Homo sapiens: one gene and its partners. The protein of the gene in region 4 purifies or fractionates together with the protein of the main gene of each other region. This does not show direct contact. Each region holds a gene or a part of one and is shown on either strand. Other genes may lie near its edges. The genes, in order: PARVB, RABGAP1, CMAS and LIMS1.

What was found.
Region 1: the proteins of LIMS1 (region 4) and PARVB purify together in Homo sapiens (affinity purification with mass spectrometry; 3 studies listed by BioGRID and IntAct, with this or other methods). This does not show direct contact.
Region 2: the proteins of LIMS1 (region 4) and RABGAP1 purify together in Homo sapiens (affinity purification with mass spectrometry; 3 studies listed by BioGRID and IntAct, with this or other methods). This does not show direct contact.
Region 3: the proteins of LIMS1 (region 4) and CMAS purify together in Homo sapiens (affinity purification with mass spectrometry; 3 studies listed by BioGRID and IntAct, with this or other methods). This does not show direct contact.

Annotation. Positions count from the first base shown.
Region 1 is NC_000022.11:44,132,284-44,139,305, forward strand, and holds part of PARVB (beta-parvin), read left to right. Parts: intron 1-610; coding exon 611-726; intron 727-4,176; coding exon 4,177-4,235; intron 4,236-7,022. UniProt on the Homo sapiens protein: Adapter protein that plays a role in integrin signaling via ILK and in activation of the GTPases CDC42 and RAC1 by guanine exchange factors, such as ARHGEF6. Is involved in the reorganization of the actin cytoskeleton and formation of lamellipodia.
Region 2 is NC_000009.12:123,069,998-123,077,019, forward strand, and holds part of RABGAP1 (rab GTPase-activating protein 1), read left to right. Parts: intron 1-352; coding exon 353-427; intron 428-1,414; coding exon of another isoform or gene 1,415-1,480; exon of another isoform or gene 1,481-1,504; intron 1,505-3,554; coding exon 3,555-3,680; intron 3,681-4,287; coding exon 4,288-4,431; intron 4,432-6,247; coding exon 6,248-6,289; intron 6,290-6,636; coding exon 6,637-6,765; coding exon of another isoform or gene 6,766-6,774; intron 6,775-7,022. UniProt on the Homo sapiens protein: May act as a GTPase-activating protein of RAB6A. May play a role in microtubule nucleation by centrosome. May participate in a RAB6A-mediated pathway involved in the metaphase-anaphase transition.
Region 3 is NC_000012.12:22,041,957-22,049,219, forward strand, and holds the start of CMAS (N-acylneuraminate cytidylyltransferase), read left to right. Parts: upstream 1-4,261; 5' UTR 4,262-4,347; coding exon 4,348-4,607; intron 4,608-7,263. UniProt on the Homo sapiens protein: Catalyzes the activation of N-acetylneuraminic acid (NeuNAc) to cytidine 5'-monophosphate N-acetylneuraminic acid (CMP-NeuNAc), a substrate required for the addition of sialic acid.
Region 4 is NC_000002.12:108,529,592-108,537,472, forward strand, and holds the start of LIMS1 (LIM and senescent cell antigen-like-containing domain protein 1), read left to right. Parts: upstream 1-4,878; 5' UTR 4,879-4,971; coding exon 4,972-5,003; intron 5,004-7,881. UniProt on the Homo sapiens protein: Within the IPP (ILK-PINCH-PARVIN) complex, binds to F-actin, promoting F-actin bundling, a process required to generate force for actin cytoskeleton reorganization and subsequent dynamic cell adhesion events such as cell spreading and migration.

The DNA of each region.
Region 1 (7,022 bases), on a different chromosome or scaffold from region 4:
CCCAGGCTGTCTCGTGGGTGGCTGGGTCCGTGGGTGGGGAATCGGGTGCCTTGTAAACTGTAAAACCCTGCAGGAGAAGTGGTGATGTTGACCAAACCTGAGTCCGCATGCTGAGGAAGAGAGAGGACAGACTCAGGCAAGGCAGGGGCTAATGTCTAATGTCCCCAGAGTGGCCTCTGCTCTTGGCAGCCTACCCTTGTTGGGATGGTTCATTGCGGAGAGGGAGCCCTTTTTTAGTGCCAGAGATAATAACGCACATCCTTGTGATGGGTAAGTGGCCGTGACCTGCTTTCCATGCTCTTTTCCCTTCTGTGCTAATTTTACTATCCTGTTCCTTTCCCTCATCACTGCCCAATTTATTGCTTTTAAAAACATTGTGCTTCTAAAAGTGGTTGCACAAGTCACCTTAGGCCAACAGGAAAGGAGACAGTGAAGCTAGAAGTAAATTCACCAGGTTGCTCATCAGCTCTCTTGATTTGTCCACACTTCGCTCCATCCTTGTCTCGCTGGGGTCTCATTTAGATGCTGTGTCTCTGTTGCCTTCTGCACGTGGGCTCAGGTTCCTGTGTAACCTGATCTAAAGCGTCTCCCTTCCTCCTTCCTCCTGCAGCAATTCACGGGAAGAACCTGGTGGCCATCCTCCACCTGCTGGTCTCTCTGGCCATGCACTTCAGGGCCCCCATCCGCCTTCCTGAGCATGTAACGGTGCAGGTGGTGGTCGTGCGGGTGAGTATAACCGAGTGGTCGGCCTGCCTGTAACTCCGCCAGAGAGGCAACATCTTCCTCCTGCAGTTTTCCTGCCCTCCCCCTCCTTTTTTCCCCCCAGGAGGCTACCTTCTATTTTTCCCTTTTGACAAAATGTGTGTCTCACCCTGGCTCCGAGATAAATGATTGGAACGGGAACAATGGCATTGATTTGATGAGAGGCAGAAGCAGAGGCATGAGGGTGTTGAGGTTTAATTTTCCACATTTTTGAAAAGAACATTCATTTCTCTCCAAAGCCAACTGGTTGGAATTCAATCCCCTTGAATGTGCTTATTACTCATTGGAGGAGGTTGGCCCCGCGGGATGAAACAGACACCCAAATTAAAGCCGCTTTGCATTCGTTGGGGATTATTCATCATGCCCCATCATCTCTTTTTTTGGGTTCATTTCTCTTGATTCACTTGGAGAAATGGAACCAGAACCCAGGTCCTTCTAACAGAGGGTGAAGTAGAGTTACCTTTCTCTTGCTATTTCCCTTACATTTATTTTTTATTTTATTTTATGTTTTGTGAAAGGGTTTCACTCTGTTGCCCAGGCTGGAGTACCATGGTGCAGTCATGGCTCACTGCAGCCTCAACCTCTTGGGCTCAAGCGGTCCTCCCGCCTCAGCCTCCCAGGTAGCTAGGACTACAGGCACATGCCACCGTGCCTGGCTAATTTCAAATTTTTGTAGAGACAAGGTCTCGCTATGTTGCCCAAGCTGGTCTCGAAGTCCTGGGCTCAAGCGATCCTCCCATCTCAGCCTCCCAAAATGCTGTGATTATAGGTGGGAGCTGCCATGCCTGGCCTTATTTCCCTTACATTTAAGTGGACAGTCGCTGCCTAGGGTTCGTGTGTGCAGTTTCCCTCAGTAAATGTGCAATGAGCGCCTACTATTCTCTAAGCACTCAGCATAGGCTGCCGAGCCACTAAAGGAGGAACACATGCCTGGCGTCTGTGGGGGTGACCACTGCGGCCAGAGTTGAGGTCACGCTCGGAACCTTGGATGCCTCTGTGTTTATTTTACTCGAGACATCCGGCTCCACTTTCCTCTGGTTTTTAAACTTCTCAGTCCCGTGGTCTCTGTGGTCGGGGAGGACCTGGCTGTCACTGTGTTTTCCGAACCCATTCTGGCCCCTCTGTTACCCTGGGAGCTCAGTCTTGACCGGACGGGAATGCTCCTCTCTGGCATCCGGCAAGGGCCACCTGCCATGTGTCCATGTTTCCTTCCTAAGGAGGATGTTTGTGGCTGGTGGTGGTGACTCGGGACCTGGGGGGCCATTCCTATGGCCCCGTGTCTTGGCCACTGGTTCACAGGCAGCCGGCCTGAAAAGGCTTCCCTAGGACACATTGGGATGTGGTTCCCAAGCCTACCTACGTCAGCTCGGGGCCCCAGGAGCCCTGTGCAGGCTCAGAAACTGGAGTATTTCCTTTCAGGCTTGCACTTGGGTCCAAGATAATCTTTGCGGTTTGCAGAAAGTTTGAACCAGGCAAGCACTTGCTGGTGCTTCCTGCCATAACGGGTTAGAGGAGTGTTGTTTGGCCACGACCAAAGCAGAATGAAACGGGAGCAGGGGGTCCTGTGAACCGGGCGCAGTTACTCCCCAGACCTTAGAGCCGCCTTCTGTCTTCTCTGCAGCCCCCTGGCCTCTGAGCTTGCTCAGGGGACCCCTTATCTAACCCCAGATGGAATGGTTGGTGTAAGGGATGTGGCATTTCCAGGGTGGAAGGAAGGAAGGAAAGGGCCTTATTTACTGCCTGGCCACGTGGCTTTGGGCTGATCACTTGCTTTTGCTGAGCTGCAATGCTTTTCCCCATAAAACCAAGATTTTACTACAAACCTGTAAAACATCCAGCTTCATGTCTACAATCCTAGACCTGGGCCCAGCACCTGGTGGGTGCCTCAGGCATGTTTGATCCTTGACTAGGTGAACACAATGTCTGGACCTTCCTTGGCAGGCACTCCTGAGAATCAGGATAAATGTCACCCACACTGTTGTTCAATAACAAGCACCAACCCTGAGTATTCCATGGAGGTCAAACTCAGGAAAGGGATGGAAGCCCAGATCTTGGTGGTGTCCACTGTGGGCTGGCCCAGCGGGAAATGAGTTCCCAGTCCCTTGAGGGGTTCAGTGGTGGTTGGATTAGCCACCCAGGCTCCATCTGGAGCTCCTGTGACAGGCGGGCTGCCACCCCTACCATCACCACTGCCATGCCCCCCTCACTACCATCATTACTTTTTTTTTTTTGAGATGGAGTCTCACTGTGTCACCCAGGCTGGAGTGCAGTGGCACAATCTCAGCTCACTGCAACCTCTGCCTCCTGGGTTCAACTGATTCTCCTGCCTCAGCCTCCCAAGTAGCTGAGATTACAGGCACATGCCACCACGCCCAGCTAATTTTTGTATTTTTAGCAGAGACCGGGTTTCACCATGTTGGCCAGAATGGTCTCAATCTCTTGATCTCATGATCTGCCTGCCTTGGCCTCCCAAAGTGCTGGGATTACAGCTGTGAGCCACTGTGCCCGGCCATCATTGCTTTTCTATACCTGCCACGCTCTGGGAGAAGTGTGACATATACTGTGTCAGTTTCCTAGGGCAGCCATAACAAAGTACCACAAACCAGGTGGCTTAAAACAGCAGACATTTATTCTCTCGCAATTATGGAGGCCAGAAGTCTGAAATCAAGATGTTGTCAGGGTAGGATGTCCTCCCTCATGTCTCCTCCTCTAGGGGAGGGGTCTTCCTGCCTCCTCCAGCTTCTGGTGGTGGCTGTCAGTCCTTGGTGTTCTTGGCTTGTGGCCACATCTCTCCAGTCTCTGCCTCTGTCATCACATGGCCTCCTCCCTCTGTCTGTTTCTGTGTCTGTTTCCTCTTCTAATAAGGAGGTGAGCCATATTGGATTAAGGAGGGGCTCACCATAATCCATGATGACCTCATCTGAGCTAGTATCTGCAAAGACCCTTATTTCCAAATGAGATCATGTTCTGAAGTTTGTGGTAGATATGAACTTTGGGGGACCCTCTTCAGTCCCGTGCACACACATGATTGCAGGGGATGTTCCCTGTTATTTATGTTCCTTCCAATTGCATGCCTCACCTCTCCTGGCTGCAAAGCATAGAGGATCCCTTTGGGGAATCCTGACCTGGGGTGTTTCTCCTGAGACCCACACAAATGCCAACTCTCAAGGCCACGTGGAGACCAGAGGGTGGGGAGGAGGATAGGGACAGGTTGTGGTCGCTGAAAGGCACCCTGCCCAGGGTCCCCTGCTGTGTACTCACCCAGGCCTGGCATGCGTGTTCAACACCACCCCTCCTTCTCCTGTTGCTCTTTTCTAAGATGATCTCCGGCCCCGCAGCTTCGTCTGCCCTGTCAGTGCATCTTTCCTCAACTCTCCACTGCCTGATTTTGTATGTTTATTTTGGGGTTTTCAGAAACGGGAAGGCCTGCTGCATTCCAGCCACATCTCGGAGGAGCTGACCACAACTACAGAGTAAGTGGACCCCTGTCTTGCCCTTCCAGGCCCTGCTGCCCCGAGTGAGTGGGACCCCAGGCTGCCACTTCAGCCAGGGACACCAGCGCCCATGGGGCTGCTCCCGCTCCACACCCCTTCTCTGTAGCATGTGATTCTCATGCTGGTTCCCACCCCAGCTCTCCTCCCTCTGCACACTTTCTTCAGAGTTTTTAACATTAGAACTGAGTTACCTTCCACAGACTTTGAATTTTTTCATTCCTATCTTAAAAGGTGAGCTGTAAGAACATTGCAAAGTGGGGCAGGCAGAGAGAGTTCAGGATGGTTAGAGAGAACCATTGTCTCAGTTCATTTATCCATCTACATTAGCCCCATCAGAGGTGGGAGCTACATCTTTAAACCAGAACTTTCCTTTGACAGACACTACTAAGCCATCTGTTATCTCCTAGAGAAAGCCAGAGGGCAGGTGTTCAGAAGTCTAAAAGGCTTCAAATCTATTGAAAATAGCAAATCAAACAGTATCTGTGGTATGTGGTTTTAAGGACTCCTTGTGATAACCTGCTAAGAATCTTTAGAATTCACTGCATTTGTGCCTCTTGACTAAACCTGTTTCAGATGAAACAGAACATTTAAAAATTGATTGTCTCAGCTAATCCATCAGCTAAGTTCACAGAGTGATTAATTACTGTGTTGTGAATTCATGGATGGTATTTCAAAAATTGGAGCTGACACAGGAAACCACTCGTGGCTTGCAAGCTCTCAGGGAAGATGATGGGACAGTGGAGTGCAGGCTGATGCATGTGCAGAGGCCCATGAAGAGGCCTCCCAGTCTGCCCCAGGCCCACGAAGGGAACAGGGAGAGCTGGAAAAGGGGAGGATGAGAATGTGGTTCTTTGCCCAGCACAGTGGGCCTTTGGCAGCAGCTCTGCCTATTCAGCAGTAGGAGAAGGGCTGCTCGTGGGGAACTGGGATTGGGCTGGTGTCTTAGTTGTTTATTGTTGTGTAACAAATCACCCCCAAAGTCAAGTGGCTTAAAACAACATCTGTTTCATTTGCTGCTCACAATTCTGTGGGTCAGCAATTTAGGCTGGGCTCAGCTGGGCGGTTGTTCAGCCAGTCTCGCCTGGGGTTGCTCATATGATGCAGACATCTGAAGGCTGGATGGAGGCTGGGGAGGCTGAGATGGGCTCCCCCTACCTCTGGTGGTTGGTGTTGGCCTCCCCTGGGTCTCTTTCCTCCTCACAGTGCTGGGCATCTTCCCAGGGTGCTCTCAGGGTCCTGAGAGAGTGAGAATGCAGCTGCAGTCCCCTTGAGGCCTTGTCTTGGACATCCATACCTATGTCCTCAATTCTGTGAGTCAAAGTGAGTCACAGGTCATCCTGGATCAAGGTGCAGGAAACAGACTCTGCCTCCTTGTGCAGGAATGGCCTGTGCACATTGTTGGGTGGTGGGCATGCTGTGATAGGAGTTCCCCTCTAGGTGAGGGGGTCCCATATGAGGACAGCAAGGAGGAGCTGGGCCCCCTGCCATAAAACTAGAATGGTCCAGAGACAGAGAATGAGCAAGTGGGTGGGAGAATTGTCTCAGCTATTCATCAGCAGTAAGTGGCCCCAAGGACCTGCTGCATGCCAGCCTCCTTGCTGGATCAACAGAGACACTGAGAGGTGGGCTGAGTGCAGTTCTTTTCCTCCAGGGCGACCCATCCTGCTGATGAGAAAGGATGCATCCACAGACATGTACAGTCTAACACAGGGGCTTGTGGGAAGTGCCTCGGGGCCCTAAGGGAATTTCCAGGAGGAGGGGAGCACCCCAAAGTCAGGGAAGGGGAGATTTCAGTGAAAGCCACCTCAATCAGATATCAGATGGCCCTGAGCAGTGAGGAAGGGAGTTGGGATTTTCTAGCCTGAGTCAGTGTCCCTCTGCCAGCCAGGGTCAGGGTAAAGGAGAGGCTGGGTCACCTCTCCAGGATGATGCCCCAGGTAGGTTCTCCTCAGGGCTGGTCATCCCATCCTTGTCTCCTGTTCCTTCCCCTCCCCGTGGCTGCGGAGGCTCTGACGGAACATTTGAATCATTGGATGTCTGCTGAAAACCAGCGGCCCAAAGATCCACATTCAGTTTCCTAAGGCAGCATTGCCACCTCCTATCCAGTCTCAGTGTTCCCCTTTCTCTTTCAAGAGGTGGCTATGAGGTCACCCCTTCCAGGAAGCCCTCCTGTCTGCCAAGCAGGAGTGCTTGGCTTCCTGTTAGTTCCCTTAGCCTCTGGACACATGTGGCCAACATTGAAATATTGGCTTATGAGGTCTGTCACTCCCAGGCATCCTGAGGGCAGGGCCACATAGTGTTTATCTCCAGGGGATGTTAATTTCTGTATCTGCACAGCCTGCACATAGTAGGTACTCAAGTAAGTGCTTGTTAAATAAGATGGAGCCAAAGGACTTGAGCCTAGAGGGATTTGGGGACAAAGTAAAGACTTCCTTGCCTCTCAGGAAGGCAGTGCATGGAAAGGATCTGTGCACTCACTCACTGGGAATCTTTGAGGAGAAGCTGCTCACCACTCCCGTCTCCCCCATTGCTTCCGCTGCCGCCTGCCTGAGATCAGGGCCTGGCCTCGTGGTTCTCCAGGATCCTTTAGTTCCACAAGTCCTGCAAGTACATTGTGTTTACTCCTGGAAACATGAGTAACCTGCAACCTTGTGTGTGTGTTTGTTTGTTTATTTATTTATTTGAGACAGGGTCTTGCTCTGTTGCCCAGGCTGGAGTACAGTGGTGCGATCCCAGCTCAGTGCAGTCTTGACCTCCCAGGCTCTA
Region 2 (7,022 bases), on a different chromosome or scaffold from region 4:
TGGTGCCTGAAGGAAGAGTGCATGTTTGAGGCAGAGAGGGAAAGGACATCCCAAGGAGAGGGAACATCATGAACAACAACAAGGAAATACGAAGTTTTTTTTAGCGCAGAAGTGGTTTTTCCTTAATCTTCCCTACTCCTTCGCCACAGGAAATGCAGTGGTGATAGCTGTATTCATTGTAAAGAAAAAGTTAAGATTGGAGAGAAGTATTGGCACCACTTACTGTCTGTCAAAATGCTGTCCCAGTGTGGGTAGCATCCTCCAGGGTTCTGTATTCAAGGTCCTATAGTGCCACCATGGCCCACAAGTGGCTACATTCATTTACATTTCCTCTGTGTGTTTTATTTTCCAGGCTTATTCTGTGTATGATGAAGAGATTGGTTATTGCCAGGGCCAGTCATTTCTTGCTGCTGTGCTCCTTCTCCATGTGAGTAATTAGGTCTCTGTTATGACTTAACACATGGCCTCCCTCAGCTTATACTAACCTTAGGCTTGAGCATGGTTTTATATTGGGTTTGGACAGACTCTTAAGGCATGAATTTTAACACCTATAGCTGGAAACTTTTTCCTTAAATTAACTTAATGTCATTGTGGAGGAGATATATGATGAGAATAAACGGCAATGTTGAAAACTGGTACAGGGGTAGACTTCCTTTTTATTAATAGGATGATTGGAGAGACTTTAATGTTGGTTGAACTCTTGGGGACGTTTTATCTTCTCTAAAGTAGCCGCTGTCATTAATACTTGTTTTGAGATTTAGGTATTGGGGTAGGAGGAAGGCGGAAAAGTTGGTTTTCTTTTAGTACCATTTTATTCATTCATTGGCTTAGCAAACACCTTTGCCCTCCACCTTTTTTATTTTCTTTCAAATCCACAGAAAACTCTAAACAGTGTTAAGGTGAACAGTCTTTATCTAGTTTACCAATTAATATTTTCCACACTGCTTTTTCTGTTTGTCTCCCTCTGCATCTCTTTTTTTCTCTTTTCTGCATAAACACACATTTTCTTTTTTACTTAAATTGTTTTTTGAAATTATTCTTGAAAGTAAATAACAAACATCAAGACTTCTAAATACTTGATCATATATATGCCTTCTGGGAGCACAGAATTCTGTATCATAATCATAATACCATGATCACATCCAAGAAATTCCACATTGATTCAGTAATGTCTGATACACAATACACATTCAATTTTCTCCCAATTGTCTACTCCATAGAATCTAGCTTTTTTTCTAATCAAGATCTAATGAAGATTCAAATATTGAATTGTCATTTCTCTTTATTCTTTTAATCTAAATTACTCCTTTGCCTTTTTTTGTGTTTCATGCCATTGATAGTTTTGAAAAATTCAGACAAATTGTCATATAAAATGTCCCACAGTCTTGATTTGTCTCATTTTCTCATGATTCAGTTTAAAATGCTTGGCAAGAATACCACACAGGTGATGTCAGCAAAGAGTTTTGAGTACCTGTTATGATCTGTACTGTGCTGAAGATCAGAGGTAAATAAGAGACATGGTCTCAATCCTCCTGGATACAGAGCTTGTGAATCCAACTAGCTTTAAGCACATAATCACACAAGTATATCATTTATTACTTTCAGTGGTGCTATTAAGGTATAATAAAAAGTTTGGTGTAAGATTGTAACAAGGGAGTCTTACTTAGATTAAAGGCTTCTCAGGGGAAGTGACCTGTAAGGAGCAGCCTGGAAAATGATAAGGGATATCATTTTCTTTTGCTCTTTTCTGTGTTAACTTTTCAAAATGTTGTTATGAAAATAATAGATCTATTTGAAAAGGGAGTAGAGAATAGAGTGTTAATGGGAAAGTGAATGGTACAGTATACAGAAGTCCTAAACTGGGGAAACACTTGGTGTATGGGAGGAACTGAAAGGAGGACAGTGTGACTGGAGTATCCTGAGTGACTGGGAGTTGAGGAGAGAGCTAGGGAGAGCTTTGAAGCCCAGATAAGGAGTCTGAATCTTGCTTTTCTAAGCAACAGGTATTCAAGGGTATTAAGCCATTTTGTGTAGATTGCAATACAAGTTTGAGTATCCCTTATTTGAAATGCTTGGGACCGGAAGTGTTGTGGATTTTGGATTTTGGATTTTGGAATATTTGCATTATACCGGTTGAGCATCCCAAATCCAAAAATCCAAAGTGTTCCAATGAGCATTTCCTTTTAGCATCATGTCAGTGTTTAAAAAGTTTCAGATTTTGGAGCATTTTGTATTTTCAGATATGGGTTGCTCAACCTGTACAAGTAAAACAAAAACCACTTTGGTTTTTCTTAACTGAACCCAGCTTGTTGCTATTGGTAGTCATGTAAAAATATGATAAAGCTATGACATGAATAAAGAGGTTGACTTTTTATTTTGTTTTGTTGTTTTAATGAGACTTTATATCTCAAAGTCCCACAAGCCTGGGTGATTTATCTTCGTTCTCACCTTCAGTTCAAGGACATTTATCCCCTTGAAAATGGGTTTTCCAATCAGACCCTCCATGTCTTGTTTTGAACTCTTGCTGCTTGCCAGAGTGTTATAAGTGCTTGTTTAGAGTGAGGGGAGATGGGCTACTTAGCATCAGAATCACCACTGTGGGTTAGGCCACATCTCCTTGCATGTGGCAAAGTGAAGTTGCCTTCCATGACAAAGACTTCAAAGATCTGGGCTTTTGCCCCAGATACTCTTAACTTACCAGTAATGATCTGCTATGCTTTTCTCACTTATTACTTAATCTGATTTGCTCTTTAGTTCTGCTTTCTTCTCAGTGATTTCTGTGCTCAGCCCGCCTCCATCATCTTGTTCCATAGAAGCCTGCCCACCTTCTTGACTTTTTTGAAGGCTTGCTACATTCACACCAATCCTTAAATAACATTTCCAGTGCTTCTTTTTTCTCTTTTGAAAATATCTTGCCAAGTTCTCAGGGAAATAATTATCCATAAAACTATGGAAAATGTAGGTATTATTATAAATGTAAATAGAAGTGAAGGAGGCTTTTGTAGTACTTCAAGCATTACTGCAAGCCTTAGAATATGTAAGGTTCTTCTAAAACAAGCTATATTTTTAACAGTGAGGAAGAAAAACAATTTTGCTAGAATGAAATAGCAGCTAAGGGAGGAAAAATGGTTAAACAGAGGTCCCAGGATTTGGGAAAGATGACACCTACACTGTATATCAGCCTATTTCTGCTCAGCTCAAATTCTGTCCTTTCTACAAAGTCTGTTTCTGACTGCCTTAGGCAGATACAGGCCTTCCTGTTCTTGTATTATCACTGATGTCTAATTCCTATTACAGTTATTTTAATACTGGCTGTGTGAGAGACTCCTTGAGGACAGGAACCATACTGACAAAGAGTAGTCATTGTTAACTATTCCTTGTTTGAGTGAATAAATGTTTTAAACACAACCTTAGGCCTGAGTTTCTGCATAGCACTAAATTTTCTGGTAAGGCAATAATATAAAGCTGGATTTAATATCCTGAGAAAACTTCTGTATGTTTTGTGATTCCCCACCGCCATCCTCCCTACCCAACAACTTGCCTATCTGTTACAGATGCCTGAAGAACAGGCATTCAGTGTTCTGGTCAAGATCATGTTTGACTATGGGCTCAGGGAACTTTTCAAGCAAAACTTCGAAGATTTGCATTGCAAATTTTACCAGTTGGAGCGCCTCATGCAGGTAAAAAGAGAAACCAGCTTGTGTTTGACAAAAAGAGTACAGGACTAAGGAGCACCAAATTGAGGAAATGGTGCCAGGGAGCATTGGTAATTGCCTTAGCGATCCGTGGCTAAGGATGGGTTTCATTTTTATCCTTTATCACTATGTGATTATGATGCAAAGATTAACAAAGTGTTAAACTTTCACACCTCATGGATGTGAGCTGATAAACTCCCAAAAGATCAGATGACTTTGTTAGGGGTCTTTTCCACAGCTAACTCAGTCAAGAAGTACTCCCCAAGGCTCTGAAGCTGACTGGTTAGGAATCTCATAACAAAAGTGAAACAAACTTTCCCAAATGTTTTTTACTTTGGAGAGAAAAACAGGCTTTCCAAATACTTGTCACCATTTTGGGGATTCCTCTTTCTTTAGAACAAGTTTGTGGTCTGGAAAAAAGAGTTGAGTGCCAGCTTAATACCAGATGATAAGTGTTCTAAGCACTTTGGAGATTTTTAGAAAAACACAAGTATTTTACTTTTTTGGCCTATTCCTGGTAGATTTATGAGCCTCCTTAGTGGGAATTGGACAGATGCATATGTGCCCAGAACTAATTGGTTTGCTATTTCAGGAATACATTCCTGACCTGTACAACCACTTCCTGGATATAAGCCTTGAAGCACACATGTATGCCTCCCAGTGGTTTCTTACTCTTTTCACTGCAAAATTCCCTCTCTACATGGTCTTCCATATCATCGACCTGCTTTTATGTGAGGTATGTATCAGAGGCCACAGCACTTTGGCTTTTGTTTGCAGTGTACTTGAGGAGAACAGATTCTGTTTTGAGTGTCAGCTCTGTCAAAACAGAATTGGTCTCTTTAATTATTTTATTTTATTGCTAGGAAATCTAGGTTTAAGTGACTTCCTTGGACTAAAGCTAATGATCGTATTTGTTAAAGGTGTACTCTGAAAAGACGTACTGAATTAGACATTTGTATTAGTTCATATTAGTTTTGGCTGTATTGAATGAAGAAACCCAAAGTAACAGTGATTTTAAAAAATAGCTTTTTGCTCTCTTGTGAAAAAAAGTCAATGTTGGCAGTAGCGTGCCTTCCCCTCACTCTGGCTGTTAGCCGTATGGAGGAGTAGCACACCAGCCATTATATCATATTCAAGCCAGGAGGATTAGAGGATGGGAGAGGGTGCCTCCTCTGTTTTCAAAAGAGACTTCCTGGAAGTTCCATCCAGTATTTCCACTTTATGGTCAGAACTTAGTTACATGACCACACCTAGCTGCAAGGGAGACTTTTTAAAAAATAAGCTGAGCAGGAATTTGCTAAAAATTAGAGATTTATTACTAAAGAGAAAATAAGATATTAGAGTAAATAACAGTCTTTGCCATGACGTAATTTTGGATTTTGTGTGGTGTGTTTAAGAAAAACATAATTATAAAAATAATATATGTTTATAGAAAATATAAGTAAAAATAATTTAAAATACTACAAATCCCACTGTCTATAGGTTACCTCCTTTAACAGTTTGGTTAAAAGCAGTATCCTTTCAGCCTTTTTTATGTGTTCATATATGTGTATGTATAATTACTATACAGAATAGTATGGTTTCCATATGGATGGAACACTATATATATTATGGTTCTCCTATGTGTATATTTAAAAATATGATTGTTATTTATACTCTTTGGTATCCTCTTTTTAAATTTCATATACTTGAACATACACATCTGTACTATCCTTTTTAATTATGCTATATTCAAAACATACAAAAATTCATAAAGAATTTGTATCTACCACTCAGCTTGAAATATTCTAAGAAACAGAAGAAATAAATATTACCAAATATGCCGTTTTTCTTAGTTGCTGCCAAGTATCCCATTATTTGGATGTGCTATACTTTATGTAACCAATTTCTAATCACAAACCTTTAAATTGTTTCTAGCTTTTTAGTAGTATAAACAACCATCTGTTAAGTAGCTACTAAAGGCCAGGTGGCATGCTAAGTAATTTACATAAACTTTTCAGCTAATTATCTCAGAAAACCCATAGGAGAGTATTAGTTATGGAAACTGAGGCCCAGCAGCTTAAGCAGTTTAACTTGATCAACAGATGTTAGTGCTTCCTCTCCTTTGTTCTTAGCCCCAGGATTTGCAGAATGGAGGGAGCCTTGAGCAGATTCAGTTCTGGAATATAGGGCTTATCGACAGAGTGGTTGCTGTGCATGGATTGGGACAGCACAAGATAAAGGAAAAGTTCCCCAGGAGTTATTTCCTGAGAGATCACAACTTTATGACTGATCTTTTGGTTTGGAAGCATGGAATGCTTTGGAAAAGCATTTCTTATTATTGAATATGAGAACAGGGCAAGAAAAGCTCTTCTCTCAGAAAAAGGGGAAGCTAGGTCTTTAAGCAGCTTTTCAATGGCCCTTTAGTTTTTATTTTTCAAGGTAGTTCTGAGATAATGCATTTCCTTCCTTAAGTTTTCACAATTTCTTTAAAAATGTGGGGTATAAGGACAAATAGCATAATAGTCGAGATATAAAAACTGACAGTGTTCTTTTTGTCTGTTCTCTTTCAGGGAATAAGTGTTATTTTTAATGTCGCCCTTGGATTATTAAAGGTACTCATTTATTTATTAGCTGAGTTATCTGTCATTCCCTGCTCTGCACTTGCAATACATTGGTTGTAGTCTCATTCTGAGCAGTCACTGTGCACTAGCATTACCCATGACAGTGGATGTATGCAGGTGGCTCTGACAAAAGCGAAGAAATATCTTCTGGGGATTATAAAAGTGCTGGAAATCTAGCATTACCCCTAACAGTGGATGTATGCAGGTGGCTCTGACAAAAGCTAAGAAGTATCTTCTGGGGATTGTAAAAGTGCTGAAAAGTGCTGAGAATATAAAAAACTTCTTGTGCATCCTTATAGCAACACATTTTTTCTATATGTGTTTGTATTTTCTTCAAGACTTCGAAAGATGACCTGCTGTTGACAGACTTTGAAGGTGCCTTGAAGTTCTTTAGGGTTCAGCTTCCTAAGAGATACCGCTCAGAAGAAAATGCAAAAAAACTAATGGAATTAGCCTGCAACATGAAGGTAAAATAATTTTGCATTAGTTAAGATTCTGTTTTTCACTTAGTGTCTCACTATTCCTGATCATTTATAATACATAATTATTTATGTATTATATTTATAACATTTATAATACATATTAGTGTTAACATTTATAATATATAAATAATATTAATGATGTTTTCTTCTGTATTATATAACTCTTAACCTTTTTTTCCCCAAAATACTTTCCTATATATTATAATCCTACGAATGAAATCTCGTTGTCCCCCCAACCGCCA
Region 3 (7,263 bases), on a different chromosome or scaffold from region 4:
AAAAAAAAAAAAAAAAAAAAAAAAAAGAGAGAGAGAGAGAGAGAAAGAAGTACATACAAGTTGTTTCGAAACAGAAAACATTGGTTACAGAGTCTTATGGCAGAAATTGACATCTGTTTATTAGTGGAGACAGGCAAGTGTTCTTATGCAAGCAGCTAGCTGTCCTTGTGTGGCTAGCTTTGTGTCCTTGTGTGGCTGCTAGCTCTCATTGTATGACTCATGTAGCAAGCTGCACTTTGAAAAAATTTCCTGTGGTATTTTTTTGGTGGAAGCATAGTGCATGAGTGCCCCTCCCTCATGGCCTTCTGGCTCTATTATCTTAGGGTTAGACATAAGCAACTTCATTTTGGTATTGATAACTTTCACAGTGACAATCACAGCATTTGATATAATTGATCACTTTTCCCTCCTTCCATTACTTTTATTCGCATAGATTTCAGGGTACCCTATTGGCTTCTGTTTTGCATTCTGTCTCAGTCTCTTTTGCCATGTCTTCTCATTTCGTTAACCTCTAAGTGTTGGAGACCCCCAGGGCGCAGTCTTCGGACTTGTTTTCTCTTCTGTTAACTTTTCAATCTTAGCTGATCTCATCTAGTTTCTTCTCTTTTCTGTCTGCCATCACCTCTCTTTCTCATCTAGTCCTATGGCTGAGAATAGTACCCAAATGCTGATGACTCCCAAGCTATATTCATATCCTAGACCCCTCCTATAAACTCTAGGGTAACATATTCAATAGCCCACTGTTTATTTCCCTTTGGATAGCTAATAGATATTTCACACATGGCATTTATAAAACAGAATTCATAATTTTGTCTCCAAACCTTAGTCCTTCTTATCCTTTCCATCTCGGTTAATAGCAACTCCCTCCTACTAATGGTCAGGCCAAAGATCCTGGAATCACACCAATTTTCCTGTTTCTCTCATGCATTTCACCTAGTCTGTCAGAAAATCCTATTAGCTATACTTTTAAGATATATCCGGAAAATTTGAGCACTTTTCATCACCTCAGTGTATTTTCAGTGCCCAGAAAAGTGCCTGACACAGTTGTCATGCAATAACGATTTGTTGAAAGAATGGCGTGAATCAAGTTATATCCCTTCTATCTGTAACTTCCTTAACAAAGCTGAACACATAAGGTCTTTATGTGCTGTAATCTGGCCCACGCGTTCCTCTCTATTTTCATCTTTCGCCACTAACCAACCAGTATATTCTGCTTCAGTCATAGTGACTCACTTCAAGTTTCCTAAATCATCATGTAGTCTCATTCCTCTGCACCTTGCACAATGCCATTCCCTCAGCTGAGGTCTTTTTTGTACTTTAACAATCTTTCAAGAGTCATCTCAGCAAAGAAAAGTTTTACTCTAGCCTAAATACCTCCCTCTGTGCTTGCCTACCTCATGTACACTTTTTCACAGCACAAATCACACTCTACTGGGGTGTGCCTGTCTCCCTGTCATAATGCTAAGTTCGCTGCCTTTCACCTCTTGGTTTGGTATTTTTAACGTGTAGCACAGAGCCTGGCTTTTGGAATGCAGTGAATGTGAACAAATGAGTGAGTCAAAGGACTCCTCTGTATACAAAGTTTGTTTACATACAAAATCATAAAACAAGAGATAATATAAGGATATATTCTTTCACAATAAATACGAATGAATTATTCTTCAGCAGCAACACTTCATACTGATCTTTAAAGGAAAGATGACCGAATATTTGCTTTGAGAGTAGTTTATTTTGTTCCTCAAAACTAATCCAAAGAAAAAGACAGGATAACCCATCCTCTTCCTCTTCCTGGAACAATCATTCTCTCTTTGGACTAAGTAAAAATATTGTAAAAGAGTAAACTCTAATTTCATTTTTTAAAATTCATCAAATTTCTGTGTGCCATATGCTGAACTAGATGCATCACCTTCCCCTTCTACTACCACCACCTCTCTCTCTTCCTTTGTCTCCGTCTCTCAAGATTGGGAGTAGCTAAGTGTCAGGTCTAATCAAAATTGTGCTGTAACCATACAAAGGATATAAAATGCTTTATTATCATAAGTTTGCAACTATATTTTAAAAAGCATGCGTGGGCAGAGACTGAAAAAGTAATATGAGAGGCAGTTCACCAATGTTTACTGAGCAGTACTGTGACCCATGCATTGTTCTGGATGAGAAGATTACAAAGAAGGAACAGTCCCTCTCCTGGAAGAGTTCAAAGTCTCTTGGTATTTATGTAAATCGCTATAATCTCATTTGATAAGTAACAGTGGTGCCACTTGCTCTGTTCCCAGCTTAGAGGACACCAATATGCCCCAGGAGTCAAAACTACTCAGGTGTCTGTGGTCCACTAGGATTTATGGGCCTGTAGGGAATTACTGTGGAGAAGGGCAACTAAATCATTAATAGGAATCAAGATTGTTATTGGGGTGTAGTAGGGGTCCTCACATGACTACCAAAAGCTCAGTGCTGGTGTCTCTGAGGCACAGCAACTGCAAAGGCCCTACTCAAAGAGCCAGTGTATGGGGGCAAGTTGTCCCCTTGCCCTTCAGTGCTGGAATGGCTCATAGAGCCTGCCCCTTTCCCAAGCATGGCATTGATGTCTGCTCACAGCCTCCCTTATCTGTGTCTGCACGAAGCACCTTCTTCCAGCACCAGTCCCAGGAAGGGCTGGGCCCTCAGTTAATTCACAGACTAAGAGATGTAAAGTATCCAGTACCTCTCATAGGACCCAAAACATCAAAGACTTCTTCTCTCCCCTCAAAAATGGCCAAGACCTGAGAAGTACAAAATCCTTTTGCCCTCTGGGAGAAGGCAAGCCGACACACTACAATCCATTCTTTCTGTTTGTATCAGCCTCCATCTCAGAAATGTAAAAGACTCTACTTCCAAATATAGGCTTGCAAACATGCTGAAAGACAAAATGCATGCTAGGTCAGAGATGCCTGCTTTAAAGTCTCTTTTTTTTTTTTTCCTAAGAGAGGTGTGTGTGGGTGTATGTCTTTGAGCCTCTTGGCTGGATCAGGGTTTAAATGCTCAGGCGTGGCGGCTCATGCCTATAATCCCAGCACTTTGAGAGGCTGAGGCGGGCAGATCACTTGAGGTCAGGAGTTCAAGACCAGCCTGGCCAACCTGGTGAAACCCCCAACTCAACTAAAAATACAAAAATTATCTGGGTGTGGTGGTGCCCCTCTGTAATCCCAGCTACTCAGGACGCTTGAGAATGGGTGGCAGAGGGTTGCAGCGAGCCGAGATTGTGCCACTGCACTCCAGCCTTCTGGGGGACACAGTGAGAATCTGTCTCAAAAAAAAAAAAGAGTTTAAATGATGCCTCCAGAATTCTTTCTCTTTAATCCCTACATGTCATTGTTCTGCTTCCTCAGGGAGAACATCAGTCTTCCAGCCCATTTCAGAACAGCAAAGCCCCCCTGCCGCCCTACCCTACCCTTGCCCTGAGGCTTCAGGTTAACAAGGTCCTTAGCACCCAGTCAGCACGAGAAAGATCCTTTCTTTCCAAGACTCTCTGGAAAGGACTCCAGTGGGCTCTGCTTGGTCATATGCCTGTCCCTAGACCACAGGTGTGTTAAGGAAAATGGGGTGCGTAGATGGACCAGCTTGGGTCACACACAGTGCAGAGAATGTGAGGGAAACCCTCACCGGATGAGAGAGGGATCAATTCCTAAAAGGAAAAGATTTTTAGCAGACAACAAAACAAAACCAAAAAACCAAGTGTCGGCCACACTAGAGGTGACCAGTAAAGCTGACTTCCAAATTTCTGCTGCTAGGGAATGCTGATGTCGATCAAAGTGCGGAGAGCATATGAAAAATGGAGTTTTTAAAACGTTGAGTTTAAGGCGCCTGTAGGATATTTGAATGAGCTGGTCAGTAATTTCTTGGAAAAAATGACCCAGGGGCATTAAAAAAAGGTGTATGTTTAAAATGTACATTTTAAAATATAAAATGGATTCGTGTCAGGGTGCATCAAGGTATGCAACGGGAAACCCACCACAATTCTAAAGTGGGGAAGTTCTTCAGCAATTATAAATACTTTTTTTCTTTTTTAATTTTAGAAATTTACAGACACTTGCAAGCACCCCAAAAGCCGCACTTCCTCCAAATATCTCTGGACTCCCACTGCTTGACTTAGTTTTGGGGTCACCTCATCAGAGCCTACTTGGCCTACTGGCCCCAGACGAGGCGGCCGCGGACTACAATTCCCAGCGAGCACCGCGAGGGGCGGGGGAGGGGGCGGGGCGAGGGACGGCCGCGCGCGCCAGCTGCCAGGCGGGGATCGGGCGGCGCCGAGCTGAGGTGGTGAGGGACTAGCTCCCGGATGTGGAGAAGCTGGGGAGAAGGCGTGGGAGGAAGATGGACTCGGTGGAGAAGGGGGCCGCCACCTCCGTCTCCAACCCGCGGGGGCGACCGTCCCGGGGCCGGCCGCCGAAGCTGCAGCGCAACTCTCGCGGCGGCCAGGGCCGAGGTGTGGAGAAGCCCCCGCACCTGGCAGCCCTAATTCTGGCCCGGGGAGGCAGCAAAGGCATCCCCCTGAAGAACATTAAGCACCTGGCGGGGGTCCCGCTCATTGGCTGGGTCCTGCGTGCGGCCCTGGATTCAGGGGCCTTCCAGAGGTGCGCATGTGCGAGAGTGGGCGGCGCGGCCTGGGCGGGGGTCGGGAGAGGGAGTCGGGCTGCTGGAGGGGCTGGGGCCTCCGGGGCCACCGCTCTTGGAAGGGGGCCATCTCTCATGCCAGGGATGTGCAAGATCCGGGGTGCCTGGGGCCGGGCTGAGAGCCCAGGAGGAAGGGCTCCAGCTCCTTCCTTGTTCCGTAGCTGCCAATGGTCATAACCTGGGACAGTTCCTGTCTCCGCCCTTGAGAATCATCCGTAAAAGGGGAGATTACACCTCCCCAACCGTCCCCTCCTCCCGGGTTGACCTTACGGGGAAAAGTAAAGGAGGCCACCCCGGTGCAACATCTGTGATAATATGTGAACTTCTTTGGATGGGGGCCATCGAAGCTCCCCTGTTGCTCAGCCTCTGATAACTGCTTGGTGCTGCTCGATTAGGGAGGCATCAGGTTCATGAATGGAGTTGAGTGTCGGGGTGTCAGAGCTGAATTTCAAGCTCAGCTTGGAGATCTTTTCCTAACCTTTGAAAAATACTCCAGCTATCTTCCTGTGAGTCAGCACAATCTAGAAAACTCCCTACATTTATAAATACGTGAGACTCAGTGGGAAGGTGTACAACTGACTGTTTTATGATATATTAATACTTACAAATCATTTAATCATACCTTTGGAACCTCGCCTGCCCTATGGACAGTTTTAATTATGCGTAATTTAGATACATTGCCAAATTGGTCAGGAGTTACAAGCTGATGTTATTCATAAAAGAAGGGAGATCGAATTCTGTGCCAAGAATGAATTTACACATATAGCTTCAACCTAACTACATTTGAATGTGTTGTTATTGTGGAAATTAATTTATGTTAACCTTTTGATGTTTCGATTTTTAAAGAGATGACTGTTTTTGAAGTCATCTCTTTTTCTTTTTGAACCTATATTTGCTTACCCATATTAATATATGGGTAAATGATTTTCATTTAACCAGTCTTGTTCAAAAACGGGAGATGCCAAAAAAGTATAAATATACTAATTTTCTTAATGTTTCAACCCAAAAGAAGTCCTGGATGGACCAAGGCAAATAGGAGCCACCACTCAGAAGATAACACTAGTGCAATAGGAAGTGTGCGAAGGAGAGATAGGGAAGGACCTGGGGATTTTGTTCAATTCAGTAGCTATTTACTGAGCCCTAATTTCTGCTATACATGTCCAAGGGAATACCAAGATGATTGGGACACAGTTTTTGTCCTTGTGAAGCTCACAAACTTTGGGATATTTTTACATTCTTAGAAAGGGTACAAACTAAAAAGGACTGAGAGAAGTAGGTGCATCCAGACTGCAGTAATATAGTGAAATATCATTTTTGTGAAATGAACTAGAGATCAAAATCATATTCACAGTAAATGGAGAACAAAACTGTTAATACCATTTACAACTCTTAGGTTGTATATATCAGGAAACCCTGTTCAAACTGGCATAACAAAAGAGGGAAAGGCTTATTAAGGTACAGTCAGATTCAAGGACAAAAAAATGATTCATTCATTCAGCATACTTACTGCCTACCTACTATGTAACAGGCACTGTTGTATGTACCGAACCACGTGTAGTAGCAGTAGAGACAGCCCTTAGTCTCATAGAGCTTACGTTATAATAAGGAAAGACATGCAGTATACAAGAACATTAATGTGTGTTGTATCACGTTATGATAAATATTTTTAAGAAAAAGTAAAGCAGGATAAGAGGATGGTGCACTTTGTTGCCAGAATCCTCAATTTCTTAGCTCTGGATAGACCCTTTATGGTTTCAAGGTGGTTGTACTGAGAACTGCAGAACTCTCAGGGTACCTAATGACTTGCTCCAAACCTCTGCTCCAAGAGACTTGACCAAGCCCTAGCATGGCTTCTAGCAGCTTAAGGCCATGTCCCTAGGATGATCTCAGGTTCCCTTAAAATGGCTTCCTGAAGAGGCTCAAAGCTGCCAGAATTTCCTGATTGTTCCAGGAAAAACCTGGTGAGAGGCCCCTGAACCCTCTTTTAGAGCAATTAGTTTAGAAAGCTTGCAATTATAAAAACTTTCCCTGCCTTTTGAGATGTAAATCTACCACACAAAACTGTTTCCTCAAGGACCTGGGAGCCCCAGAACCCTGTCTCAGTGAAATGCGAACATTCTAGGAAATAACTCTTACTCTCCTTCCTAGTCCCTCTGGGAAGATAAAGGGCAAAGTTCAGTGGACACCTTGCTTCAACTTGCTCAGTTGCCTTGTCTCATAAGGATAGAAGATTGTTTCTCTTCCAGATAAGCGCTAGTTAACAAATCCATATGGCCTAGTCACACGGACTAAGCCCTGTTAGCACCCCTCAGTGCCTTTCCCTTAGCACAACTCAGCCTTTAAAGTCTCCAGCCTTTCGTTTTCTGGGGCTGTGAATGCAATTCACATTGGACTCTTTTCCCTGTTGCAGTAGTAACAGAATACAATCTGTCCTTAACACTTTAGTCACCGATTTTGTGTGTCTTTGATAGCAGTCCTCATATTCTTACAGGTTTAAATGTAAGTCAGAAGGAGTGCTCTCCTCGAAGCTCGAAGTTTCATTGTGCCTCATTGGGTACCCTGCTCATTCTTCAACCAGTCACTATGGCAAGAGGAACATAGTGCTTGTATTGCTAC
Region 4 (7,881 bases):
AGAGGAGAGTGTGACCTTAAGAATCGACGGGGCCGGACTGGATCCTCAAGTAAACATCTTAGTTCGAGGAGAAGTTTATAAATGCTCTCCTAAGCCAGTGTTTTAAACTTTCTATGATGAACTAAATGTGCCAGTACCAGAAATTCCAGGAAAAACAAGAAATTTGTTTTTGCAATTAGCCGAGCATGTAACCCAGTCTCTCAATGTCACTTCACGTTATGTACGTGGAGAAACTGTAATAGGAGATCAATGGCCACAGGAAGCCCAAGAATTAGTACCTACAGACCAAGTTCCTGATGAATTCCCAGCTCAAAAGAATCACCCTGATAATTTCTAGGTCCTAAAAGCCTCAATTATTGGACAATATTGCATAGCTAGAGAAGGAAGAGAATTCACTCACCCCGTAGGATGACTTAGTTGTCTGAGACAGAAAGTGTATAATGGCACCACAAAAACAGTCACTTGGTGGAGTTCAAGTCACACAGAGAGAAATCCATTTAGTAAATTCCCAAAGTTGCAAACTGTGTGGACCCACCCGGAGTCCCACCGGGACTGGACAGCCCCCACTAGATTGTACTGGATATGTAGGCATAGAGCTTATGCCAAATTACCCGACCAGCAGGCAGGTAGTTGTGTTACTGGCACTATTAAACCATCTTTCTTCCTACTGCCCATAAAAACAGGCGAAATCCTAGGCTTCCCTGTCTATGCTTCCCACGAAAAGAGAAGCATAGCTATAAGAAATTGAAAACATGATAAATGGCCCCCTAAGAGAATCATGCAATATTATAGGCCTGCTACTTAGGCACAAGACGGCTCGTGAGGATACCAGACCCCCATTTGCATGATCAACTGAATCATACGGTTACAAGCTGTCTTAAAAATAACCACTAATAAAACTGGCAGAGCCTTGACTCTTCTGGCCCGGCAATAAACTCAGATGAGAAATGCTATCTATCGAAATAGATTAGCTCTCGACTACTTGCTAGCAGCTGAAGGTGAGGTCTGTAGGAAATTTAACCATACTAATTACTGCCTATACATAGATAATCAAGGGCAAGTAGTTGAAGACATAGTTACAGATATAACAAAATTGACACATGTGCCCGTACAAGTGTGGCATGGATTTGATCCTGAGGCCATGTTTAGAAAATGGTTCCCAGCACTACGAAGATTTAAAACTCTTATAATAAAAGTTATAATAGTAATAGGAACCTGCTTACTGCTCCCTTGTTTGCTACCTGTACTTCTTCAAATGATAAAAAGTTTCATCGCTACCTTAGTTCACCAAAATGCTTCAGCAGAAGTGTACTATATGAATGAATCACTATCGATCTGTCTTGCAGGAAGACATAGATAAGAAAATGAAAGTGAAAACTCCTACTATTGAGTGAGAGTCTCAAAGGGGAGGAATAAGGCAGGAGACCACCCCTCATATTGTCTTATGCCCAATTTCTGCCTCTAAAGAAAGAAAAAGTAAAAACTAAAAGGCAGAAATGAAATCCACAAGCAGACAGCCCGGCCCCACACCCTAGGCCTGGTAGTTAAAGATCGACCTCTGACCTAATCAGTTATGTTATCTATAGATTACAGACACTGTATAGAAAAGCACTGTGAAAATCCCTATCCTGTTTTGTTCCGGTCTAATTACTGGTGCATGCAGCCTCCACTCACGTACCCCCTGCTTGCTCAATCGATCACGACCCTCTCACGTACACCCCCTTAGAGTTGTGAGCCCTTAAAAAGGACAGGAATTGCTCACTCGGGGTGCTTGGCCCTTGAGACAGGAGACTTGCTGATGCCCCCGGCCAGATAAACCCCTTCCTTCAACTCGGAGTCTGAGGAGTTTTGTCTGCGGCTCATCCTGCTACAGGCTCATTGCAAGTTCCGCCTCCTGGATTCACGCCATTCTCCTGCCTCAGCCTCCCAAGTAGCTGGGACTACAGGCGCACACCATCATGCCCAGCATTTTTTTTTTTTTTTTTTTAGTAGAGACGGGGTTTCACCGTGTTAGCCAGGACGGTCTCAATCTCCTGACCTCATGATCTGTCTGCCTTGGCCTCCCAGAGTGCTGGAATTACAGGCCTGAGCCACCGCGCGGCCATTTTCAATTTTAAAAAACTTTTTTATTACAGAAATGTTCACATATACACTAAAGTAGACAAGCTAATATAAAGAATGTAATGTATTTATGAGGTAGTTTCAAGTTATCAACCCACATTCCCCACCCCTACATTTTAAAGTAAATTTCAGTGATGTCATTTAGTGTACAGATAGTTGCCTAGGGACCTTTAAAATTTGTTCTTTCTTTTTTCTTTTTTTTTTTTTTTTGAATCGGGGTCTCACTCTGTCACCCAGGCTGCAGTGCAGTGGTGCAATTATAGCTGGCTGGAACTACAGGTGCACGCCACCATGCCCAGCTAATTTTTAATTTTTTTTTTTTGTAGAGACAAGGCAGGGGGGTCTCCCTTTTCTTCCCAGGCTGGTCTTGGACTCCTAACCTCAAGGGATCCTCCTGCTTCGACCTCCAAAAGTGCTGGGATTACAGGTGTGAGCCACCATGCCCAAATTTGTACATTCTTTTGGTGTACATATAAGAATACATTTGTAAGATAAATTCCAAAATATGAATATCTTGGGTCAAAGAAGAGCTGAATTTTACATTGATAGCTATTGCCCACTTGTTCTTTACAAAGCGTGTATGGATTTATACTCCTATCAACAATAAATTAGCCAGGCATGCTGACGTGCACTCGTAAACCCTGCTATTCAAAAGGATAGTTGAAGTCCAAGAGTTCAAGACCAGTGTGGGTAACATAGAGAGGCCTCCTCTAGGGGAGGAAAAAAGGGTTTCCCTATATCCTCATCAAAACAATATATAGTCAAACTTTTCATCTTTGCATTTGTGAAAAATTGTATTTTATTTTTGTTTTATGATACTTTAAGAAATCATTTGTATTTTTCTGTAGAAACCTGTTTTTCTCTGAGTTGAACATTTTTGTACTGATTTTTTTAATAATTAGAACTTTTTTAATAATTTAGAACTTTTTGTCATACATTTTACAAATATTTTTCTTGGTTGGGGTTTGTTATATTTATTTGCTATGCAGAAAATTTAGATTTCTATGTAGTTACATTTATCAATTTTTATTTATTTATTTAGAGACAGAGTCTTGCTCTGTCGCCCAGGCTGGACTGCAATGGCGCGATCTCGGCTCACTGCAACCTCTGTCTCCCAGGTTCAAGTAATTCTCCTGCCTCAGCCTCCCAAGTAGCTGGGATTACAGGAACCCCGCCACCACAACCGGTGAAATTTTTGTATTTTTATTAGAGACGGGGTTTCACCATGTTGGTCAGGCTGGTCTCAAACTCCTGACCTCAGGTGATCCACTCACCTCAGCCTCTCCAAGTGCTGGGATTACACGCGTGAGTCACCGTGCCCGGCCTACATTTATCAATTTTTAATTTTATGGTTTATATGCTCTTTGAAAAGTCTCTCACCACTCCAACCTTACTTTTGTTTTTTTCCCTTGTTTTCTTCTGGTATTTTCATAACCTCTCTCTTTTTTTTTTTTTTTTTTTTTGTTTTTTGAACATTTAACTATTTGCTTTGTTTGGAATTTACTTTCATGTGAGGACATCAAATAGATCCAGTGTTTTCCTCCGACATGCCTCGACTGGCAGGAGACCAAAGTTTTCATTCTATTACTAGAGAGTAGCTATAGTTACAGAATCAGGTATCCTGAGAGAGATCATTTATGCCCAGGATGAATAACTTGTCTTATCTATTAAATCTATTAAATCCTTTGGAGATTTCACTTTTTTTTTTTTTTTTTTTTGGGACGGAGCCTGTTACCTAGGCTGGAGTGCAGTGGCGCGATCTCCCAGCTCACCACAAGCTCCGCCTCCCAAGTTCAAGCGATTCTCCTGCCTCAGCCTCTCGAGTAGCTGGGATTACAGGCATGTGCCACCACCACGCCCGGCTAATTTTGTATTTTTAGTAGAGACGGGGTTTCTCCATGTTGGTCAGGCTGGTCTCGAACTCCTGACCTCAGGTGATCCGCCTGCCTCAGCCTCCCAAAGTGCTGGGATTACAGGCGTGAGCCACTGCGCCGGCCCCAAAATTTCAGGTTTTGATAGACGGAATGGGTGAAGAAAATGAGAGCTAGCAAGGAAGAACAGGATGCAGAGGCAAGACTGGAAACTCTCCAAGAAAGGTTAACTTTTCTTAACTCACAAGTTAAACAAAGGCTGCAGGCTCCATGCGGAGCTCAGGCACCCAGCGGTGACCGATCCAGACCAGGTCCTCCCGGAAGCCCGGCCTGCCCGACAGAGCCTTACCACAGAGCCCCCTCAGGCGTCCTCGCCAGGACGGGGCGGAACCCTGTGTAGCTCCCACCCCCGGGACGAAGGCCGCTGCCAGGGCCGCGCAGCCACGCGAGTGGAATCAGAGGAGCCTCGAGGCAAGGAGAGCCGGGCCCCGCTCCCTGCGCCCGTCACCGCCATCCTTGTTGTAGGGAACTCGGCCCCCGAGCCGCCGCCGCGCTCCGTGGGCTCCCAATGAGCCCCTACCCCAGCCACCCGCTGCGTTTGCGCCAGCCTCCCAGACTAGCCTGGGGTGCTGAAATGGGGGCGGGCCCGAGCCACGGGTTGGGGCGGGGTCTGATGCGCGCCCCGCCCCGCAACGCCCCGCCCCCCCGCGCCTACCTCTCCAGTCCGCGCCCTTCGGCGCCCGCCCCGCCAGTCCCCGCCCCTCCTTGCCCAGCCGCTCCCGCCCCTCCCCCGCCTTCCCGCGCGGCCCGCCTCGCCTTCCCCCCCCTCCCGCGCCCCCGCGCGGCCGGCCCCTGGCCTTCCTCCCCTTCCTGCTCCGGGCCCGCCAGTAGCCGGCCGCGGCGGCGAGGGACTAGGACGCGGCTGGAGCGGCGCCGGGAGACGAGGGGCTGAGAGACGGCGGCGGCCGAAAGCGGAGAGATGCTGGGCGTGGCGGCCGGGATGACCCACAGGTACGGGCCGCACCGCGCGGCCCCCGCCACGTCCGCCCCGCAGCTCCCGGCGGGCCTTCGGGCCGGGCCGGGCCGGGCCTGGCGCGGGCGGGCGGCCGGGCTTTCCCCGCGGCCTCCCCCGGTCGGCCGGAGCCCCGACCCCCAGCGCTCGGGTGGCGGCGTGGCTGCGTCCGGGCCCGCGGAGGAGACGGCTGCTGTTCACTCCCGGGTGTCCGCGGTGGCACAGGCGCTGACGCCGCCCCGCTGCTCCGAGAGTTCCATAAGACAAATCAGTATTTGCCGAGCTAATCATTTATCTTCTAGCAGTAGGGATCAGCGGGTCGCAGACGTCTTGGTCTCAGGACCCCTCTTGGGACTAGAGGACCTGGAATGGTGGCTATCTCCATAGACTGTACTAGAAAGGAAAACCGAGACACTGAAGTTACTATTAACTCATTGAATAAATCCGTGGTATGTTAACGTACATACCACATTTTTATGCAACATAGGGTTTTGCTAAAACAAAAGAGTTCGTGGGACGACTGGCGTCCTTTACAGTTTGCGAATCTCTTGAGTTGTCTGACTTAGTAGAGACAACTACGTTCTCCCATCTCCTTTGCAGTTCAGTCTGTTGCGGTATGTTTTTATATGAAGAAAATCTGATCTTACACAGATGTGTAGTTGGAAAAGTGAGTACTGTCTTAATAGCTGTTTCAGATAATTATGGGTATTCTTTATTACTACACCAAAACTACGTAAGTGGAAGTTTCTCAAAGGCTGGTTTGGACGTGGAATCTGAAGCTACTGTCAGCGGACTTTTCACACAGTTTCGTTAAAATTCCTTGGTCTGTCTTGCAGTTTGAATGCAGCTAAAGCTCCTGTCAGTGGCCTTTGCACACAGTTACGTTAAAATTCCTTGGTCTGTCTTGCAGTTTGAATGCAGCTGTTACCCATTGTAACACCATATATTTGTCGTTTGGAAGATATTGGCTCACTGAGTTTGGCAGATCTCAAGCTGACGCATTTCATTAATAGCGCCGAATAACATTCGTTACCATCGCTATTGATTTCATTAGGAAAGTCTTTATGTTAAAAGCCGTCAGATACAAGGTGGTGTTTACAAGTTTTCCAAAATTCTCATTTTCGGTTGAAAGCTTGCTTTTTATCATTGGGAGCAAAATATTGTCAATTGTTTTCCTCAAAGTGACAGACTCACTTTGTTCAGTTTCAAGGAAGTGTCCGGCAATACAGGTTTAAATAACCCTAGTTTGTCAGTTGTTCTTTCCCGTAAAAATGGTATTTCATGACACAAGCAAGTTAATTCAGCTCATCGCTCTATTACAGAAGTGCACGCCTGCCATTTGGTCACAAGTAACAAAAAAGAGTCAAAGCTCAAGATTTGATAACAATAATTTGTACTCCTTCATCATGGACTTTTTTCCTTAAAAAAAAGTATTGACTAGTAAGTTGATATAAAATTTAAAGTATTTGTGAGATATTAAGAATAACGGATATGTAGTGTAATAAAGGAGATAATAGTTTCCTTTTAAGACCTTCAAACCTCTCTGGTCCAGTGTCTCTCCGCATCCTATCCCCTTCCCATCCTGAATTTACCATTAGTAATTTACTTTTTGGAGGGAGAGTAATAAGTTCATTCAAATTATTGTGCATCCGTAACCATCATACATGTCCAGAAATCTTTATCTTACAAAACTGAAACTCTGTACCTATTAAACAATAATTCTCCATTCCCCTCCTCCCGCCAGTCCCTGGCAGCCATCATTTTAATTTCTGTCTATGACTTTGACTACTGCTGGTACCTCATATCTCATGTAAGTGGAATCATACGCTATTTGTTGTGCATGTCATAGTTTGTTCCTTTTTGTTGCTCAGTAGTGCTCCATGGTATGGATGTACAGCAGTTTAACTGTTCACATGTTTGAAGGACATTCAGGCTGTTAGTTTTGGGCTATTAAGAAAGCTACTACGAACAAATAGACAGGTGTTTGTTGTTGTTTTTGAGACAGTGTCTTGCTTAGTCACCCAGACTGGAGTGGAATGCAGTAGCATGATCATGACTTACTGCACCCTAGACCTCCCAGGCTGAAGCAATCCTTCCACCTCAGTCCCCCAAGTAGCTGGGACTACAGACACACGCCACCATGCCTGGATAATTTTTGTATTTTTTTGGTAGAAACAGGGTTTCGCCATGTTGTCCAGGCTAGTCTGGGGGTCCCAAACTCCTGGGTTCCAGCAGTCCACCCACCTCAGCCTCCCAAAGTGCTGGAATTTTAGAGCCACTGTGCTCAGCCTGTCTAAGTTTTATGTGAATGTAACTTTTCCTTTTCTGGGATAAATGTCCAAGAGTGTGCAATTGGCAGGTTGTACAGAAATCGTATGTTTAGTTTTTTGAGAAACTGACAGTTTTTTTCCAGCATGACTGTACCATTTCACTTAAAAAGTGAAATTGACATTATTTTCCTGTGAGTACATAAAGGTAAAGAATTCAGGGACAGTACCACGGCCCTCTTTAGTGCTAAGCGGCCAGCAGTTGTACCGACTGTTGTTTTTGCACTATCTGTGTGTCAACACAGTCCACAATGCTACAGTGACTTCTTAGGAATATCTTAGTATGATGAAAATAGTTTTGATCTCTCGGATCCCTTAGAAAGGTCTTGGAGACCCTCAGGAGTTCAAGGCCATACTTTAAGAACCACTGTTAAAGACATAATCCTAAATGATGAAGGATATGCAGGTATTGGGGATATTTAAAAAGGAACAAATACAAGGTTTCTCTTAAAATTGCTCTTGAATGCTTGTGGTAGTGTGTGCCTTGTAGTTTTGGCTAGTTTTAGTAGGATGTAATAACTAAGACTTGGACCACCATGGAAGAAGCAAC